2 separate regions of the Homo sapiens genome follow, and region 2 is linked to region 1. A link means that fine-mapping ties the variant in region 1 to the expression of a gene that starts in the linked region. Tissue or cell type: whole blood. Region 1 holds a variant in brackets; the other region holds the start of a gene. All regions are shown on one strand. Distances are from middle to middle.

Region 1 (2,746 bases):
AGAGGTAGACAGCACAAATGCTGAAGGAGCACCAAGGGGCCAGGTAAGGGAAGGGAGAGACTGGAGTACTGGGACAACCAAAGCCATCTCATGCAAGAACAAGTTTCTATTCCCAAACCACCCCCATCCCCATCAATGCTCAGCTCTCTTCCTGCCCCCATGCCTTCCCTCTGCTCAACAGAGAGCTGGAGGCAGGAGGGCGACTCAGTTTGCCAGACATGCTGCTGCAGGTCCCCAGACCCCAGGGAGGCTGGCAAGGGACACAAACACTTTGATGTTGCCACTCCTCCTCAAGGAATGCTCCTGCCCTCCCAACACCCCCAAGAAACACCTAGGCCGTGGACGCACAGAGCAAACTGCTTCATGTTCTAGGGGCCTATCTGGAGCTTCTGTCCAGGGCCTCTGACTGCAGCCCTCAACGGACATCAGTCGGGTAGCAGGCGACCCAGCTCCGCCTCATCCAGCCGGTTGGTGGCCATGATGTGCTCCAGCTGCTGCCGGTAGCGTGCCAAGTCCTGCATGAAGTGGGGCACCCGGGTATTATCCAGCACCCCATGGGGCCGCAGGTGGTCCACATCCTCATAGGACACCTGCAGGAGGAAGCCGGGCATCAGGCATAGGCAGTGGCCCCTGGCTTTCAGGTAGCTGGTCCCAGCCCACTGCTTACAGCTCACAGCCTTTGCTCCGGGACTTCTTCCTCTCCCCTCCTGATCCACAATTAGCTACAACGTTTTATACCTCTAGACTCAATCCTTCATCTTTGCCCTTTCTCTCAACAGTTTCTTTTTGTCATAGATGCCCTACAACCCCACTTCTCTCTCCAGCCCAGCCTCTCAGACCCTCACCTCCAAACATGGGCATCCAACTGCCTCCTTAATGTCTTCCCCTGGATAACCCTCAGGATGGCCCCATGTCCAAAAGTCAACTCCTGAGTGCCAGCTTATGCCAGCTCCACCCTCTTTACAGTCACCCAGGTCAGATTCCCGGGAGGGGGCTTGGACTCTCACCCTCCCATCAGGGTAGCCGCTGAGTTAAAAGTATTCCCCTCTCTGAAGAGCTCTCCAGCTTGTCCCTTCATCTCCAACCCAGCGGCCACTGCCTGGTTAGGCCAGACCACCATCCCTTCTGCAGGAGTGACAGGCAAGGCCTCCTCCGTGC[C/T]CCTGCACTCCCTTCCCTAGTCCTCTCTCCAATCCACCTCCCATATGATGTCCAGAAGGAGCCTTCTGAAGCAAATATCAGAGTCACTCCTCTGCTTAAAGCTCCTCTCACTCCCCGTTGCTTCAGATGAAATCTACTTTCCTCGGCCTGGCACAAATGCCAGTGCCAGGGAGTTGGTCCCTGGCCATTTCTGCAGCCTTCTTCCCCTGGCCTTCCTGATCACTCCCTTGGCCTGGAATGCTCATCTCCTTTGAGATGCAGTATCTACATACACCTGCAGCCTCCGTTAAGCACCTGGTTTTGCTGCCAGAGTCATTTCATCTCCTGTTCTCACTTCCACCCACGCTCCCCCCTACCACCACAGGCCTGACACCCAGCCCTCGGTCTAGCACCAATCCGAGGCTCAGGGAATTCTACAGCAAGGCAGGGAGCTGGCTGGGACCTCTGAAGGTCCACAGCCCCTCACCTTGCCCAGTGAGGTCAGCAACGGGAAATCGATGGTCTGGCGATGTCGCAGAATGCGCACGATGCCGTCCAGGTACACCTGGTCCTTGCTGAAACAACCTGGGAGGGCAGGAGGGCGGTGAGCCCCGCCCCTCGCCCGAAGCCCCGCCCCCACCCCGGCTCTAGGCACCTCCCCCGCGCTGGCGCACACCTGGCAGCGAGGTGTCGGTCTGGCCGCGCTTGGCGCGCACGCAGTACTCCCAGCGCACATCGGCGTCCTGCACGTAGCGCTCCAGGTCCTGGAAGAGCTGACGGAAGGACATGCGCGCGGCGCGGTGGATGGTGTAGTAGAGCAGTGCAGCGCGCCACAGGAACGGCTGCTTGCGGAACAGCACGCTGTGCAGGCTGGCCAGGCCCTCCTCCGTGGGGTTCGCCGGCCGCAGCCCGTACCGCAGCCGGCCCTCCGCGTTGTGCCACGGCTGGCGCGCGTTGTTCACGCCCCGCAGGTAGTGGGTGCCTGCGGGGAAGGCGAGGGGAGGCGGCGCTGGGCGGGGCGTTCGGGGACCCGCCTGCGAGCCCAGCCCTGGCCCTGTTCCATCTGGCCGGGGCTCTGGCCGCGACACTTCCATCCTCATGCTCCTGAACTCAGGCTCGCACACAGGCTCTCCCAGCCCCAGGCAGCGTGAAGCTCCTCCTCCTGTGGACTCGCACCCAAGGATCCACAGAGGCTCACATACATGAATCCTCTCCCACCCATCCGCCCCCCACCCTACACCCACGCACCCACACACGTGCACGAACTCTCCCAAACTGACATTGCCCCCAGCCCTCCTGGGCACAAGAATACATATACCACCCTGCCCAACATCCTGGGTGCCCATATCATCTTGAACAGTCATGCTGATGCCCCCGGTAAAAATCACTCTTGCCCAGAGCAACAGGATTCTCGAGGAAGAGGGACAGACAGATAGGAATAGTGGTTAGTGCCCTGCACCCCCCTGCCCAAACTGGCCAGTCCCCTCCTAAACCAGGTGCCATGTGTCCTCAAGTCAAGTCCATTCCCAGGACCTGGCCTTCCATCCACCCTGGAGGGCCAGCGTGGTGGCTGGCCTGGTGGGACCCTGAGGGTTCTTTCTCTGGCCGG
Region 2 (2,500 bases), 22 kb after region 1:
CTGTCTGACCTGGGGGTTGCCTGGGGACCTCTCCCACCCGACCCCTACAGAGCTTGAGAGCCACAGACGCCTGGCTTCTCCGGCCTCCCCTCACCGCACAGTTCTGGCCACAGCTCCCGCTCCTGTGCTGGCACTTCTGTGCTCGCAGAGCAGGGGAACAGGACTCAGCCCCCATCACCGTGGAGCCAAAGTGTTTGCTTCTCCCTTTCTGCGGCCTTCGCCAGCCCAGGCTCGGCTGCCACCCAGTGGCACAGAACCGAGGAGCTGCCATTACCCCCCATAGGGGGCAGTGTCTTGTTCCTGCCAGCCTCAGTGTCTTGCTTCTGCCAGCTCCTTCCCCTAGGAGGGAAGGGTGGGGTGGAACTGGGCACATGCCAGCACCACTTCTAGCTTCCTTCGCTATCCCCCACCCCCTGACCCTCCAGCTCCTCCTGGCCCTCTCACGTGCCCACTTCTGCTGGGCCTTTAGCCCTAGAACCTGCAGGTGGTGGGGGCGGCTACCAAGAAGGAACAGAGGTCTCTGGGGAGGAGTCTGGGTGGTCCAGCCCTGATGATTGGCCCCACCTCCTGCTGCCCCATAACCCTCTCTTCATTTCGGCTTTTTCATTTACCCTCATTTAGAGCCATTTGCAGAGATTTAGAAAGATTTACAGTAACGAATGGATTCCTATATAAAGATTATTTTTATACTTTTTGCAGCAAAAGGAAATTGTAATATTTGTACAGTGTTCAAGTGAATAAAAACCATGCCTAAGGCTAGCTCTGATGTGGTTCTTTGGGGACCCTCCTTGGGACTGTGCTGGACTGGCAGTGTGATTGGGTGGGTCACCTTGCTGGAACTAGGGGTGGGGCGGCCTCCGGCAGCCTGCCCTCCCCGCCCCCACCTGCCGCACCTTGGTGTGGGGCGGGGCCGCCTCGGCGGGGCGGGGCAGGCGGAGCCGTCCTACCTTCCTACCCCCAGACTCCAACCCGGAACTAACCTCGGCTCCCTTGGGAAGGCCGCGTTGCATGGCCAGGAGCAGCAGTCTGGGCCGCGAGTGCGGGACACCGAGGTCAGGTCTCGGAAAGGGAGGACCTCCTCGTCCCCAGGGGCCCCAGGCCAGGTGCACCCTTGGCCGCAGGTGCACGGTCTCCGGAAAGTGCAGGCGCCCACGTCCCAGCTGGACCATGGCGCCTCCGCGGAACGTGGTGAAGATTGCCATCAAGATGCGTGACGCCATCCCGCAGCTCATCCAGCTGGACCAGGTCACCCGGCTGGTCCCGCCTCCATCTGCCCCACTGCCCCACCTCCCGGTAGCCCCCTGGCCCTCGGGGCAGCCCGCCCCACCCCTCCCCCCAGGCTCCTCCCCATCCCTCCCTGCCCAGGCCGCGAGAATGACCACTCCACTTGCAGGCGAAGCCCCTGGCCGCTGTGCTGAAGGAGGTGTGCGACGCGTGAGTGCTGCCGGGCCAGGGCCTGCGGAGGGCGGGAGGGCAGGAGGGGCGGCGCCCCCTGCCGGCCTCGCTGAGCCTCGTGCCCCTCAGGTGGAGCCTGACGCACTCTGAGCGTTACGCCCTGCAGTTTGCGGATGGGCACCGGAGATACATCACCGAGAATGTGAGTCCCCTCTCCCCAGCCCCAAGCTCGGCCTTCCGACCCCTCTAACCCACCTGGCCCCGATAACTCTGGCTCTTCATCCCACTACCGGAGCGCGATCTGTTATTCACCCCCAGCCGCCCTCACCGACACCCCAGTTGATCAGTCCTCGGAGCCCTCCCTGACCTCGCTGCCTTTTCTGCTGTCTTCTCCAGAACCGCGCGGAGATCAAGAATGGCAGCATCCTGTGCCTCAGCACGGCCCCAGTAATGCCCCTCCCGTCCCGCCTTCCCCATCCCTGCCCCTTTGCTCCAGGTCCAGAGGCCCCCCGCCCCGGAGGCCCCCGCCCCAGCCCTGCCTTGCGCCACCTAGTTGACGCCCGGGGCCGCACACTTCCAGGTCCCACCCTTACCATGCCCAGCCTCTTCACCTCTGCTCCTGCTCCGTTCCTGCCAGGACCTTGAGGCTGAGCAGCTCTTGGGTGGGCTGCAGAGTAACAGTCCTGAAGGGCGCCGGGAAGCCCTGAGGCGCCTTGTTCCGCTGGCCTCGGACATGATCTTTGCCAGGGAGGTCATCAGCCGTAATGGGCTCCAGATACTAGGCACCATCATTGAAGATGGGGACGAGTGAGCACAGGGATGTGTGGGCTGGGGGAGATGGTGGGTCTTTCTGGTCCTGGGGTGGTCCTGCTCAGCCCCAGATGTCCCCCCTCCAGCCTAGGAGAGGTGCTGGCCCTCAGCCTGAGGGCCTTCTCAGAGCTCATGGAGCACGGCGTGGTGTCCTGGGAGACTCTGAGCATCCCCTTTGTGAGGAAGGTGGGTGGGCTTTCCTAGGGCAGCGGGTGGGGGCAGTGGAGCAGTGGGGCAGTGGTAGACCCGGTCTTCCATGGGGGTGAGGTGGTGACACCCCCGCCCCTTACAGGTG

The links. PIP is the estimated chance that this variant, and not a neighbour inherited with it, causes the effect.
Region 2: ELMO3 starts here. The variant in region 1 is fine-mapped to the expression of ELMO3 in whole blood (TOPMed, PIP above 0.99).

What each region holds. Positions count from the first base shown.
Region 1 is chr16:67,176,386-67,179,131 of GRCh38, forward strand. It overlaps MATCAP1 (microtubule associated tyrosine carboxypeptidase 1), which reads right to left. Exons shown (of 7, transcript NM_001040715.2): 5 at 1,814-2,119; 6 at 1,625-1,722; 7 at 1-590. The coding sequence ends at 426. Among named protein-coding and RNA genes, the nearest start is that of MATCAP1, 6.2 kb to the right of the region's middle. RefSeq lists silencers at 1-2, 1,750-1,809, 2,080-2,239 and enhancers at 1,585-2,128, 2,129-2,670. The variant C/T (reference allele first, on the strand shown) is at 1,159.
Region 2 is chr16:67,198,160-67,200,659 of GRCh38, forward strand. ELMO3 (engulfment and cell motility 3) reads left to right here and starts at 972. Exons shown (of 20, transcript NM_024712.5): 1 at 972-1,245; 2 at 1,394-1,434; 3 at 1,525-1,597; 4 at 1,792-1,842; 5 at 2,033-2,202; 6 at 2,292-2,391; 7 at 2,498-2,500. The coding sequence starts at 1,168. E2F4 (E2F transcription factor 4) reads left to right here. Exons shown (of 10, transcript NM_001950.4): 10 at 1-759. RefSeq lists a silencer at 308-367.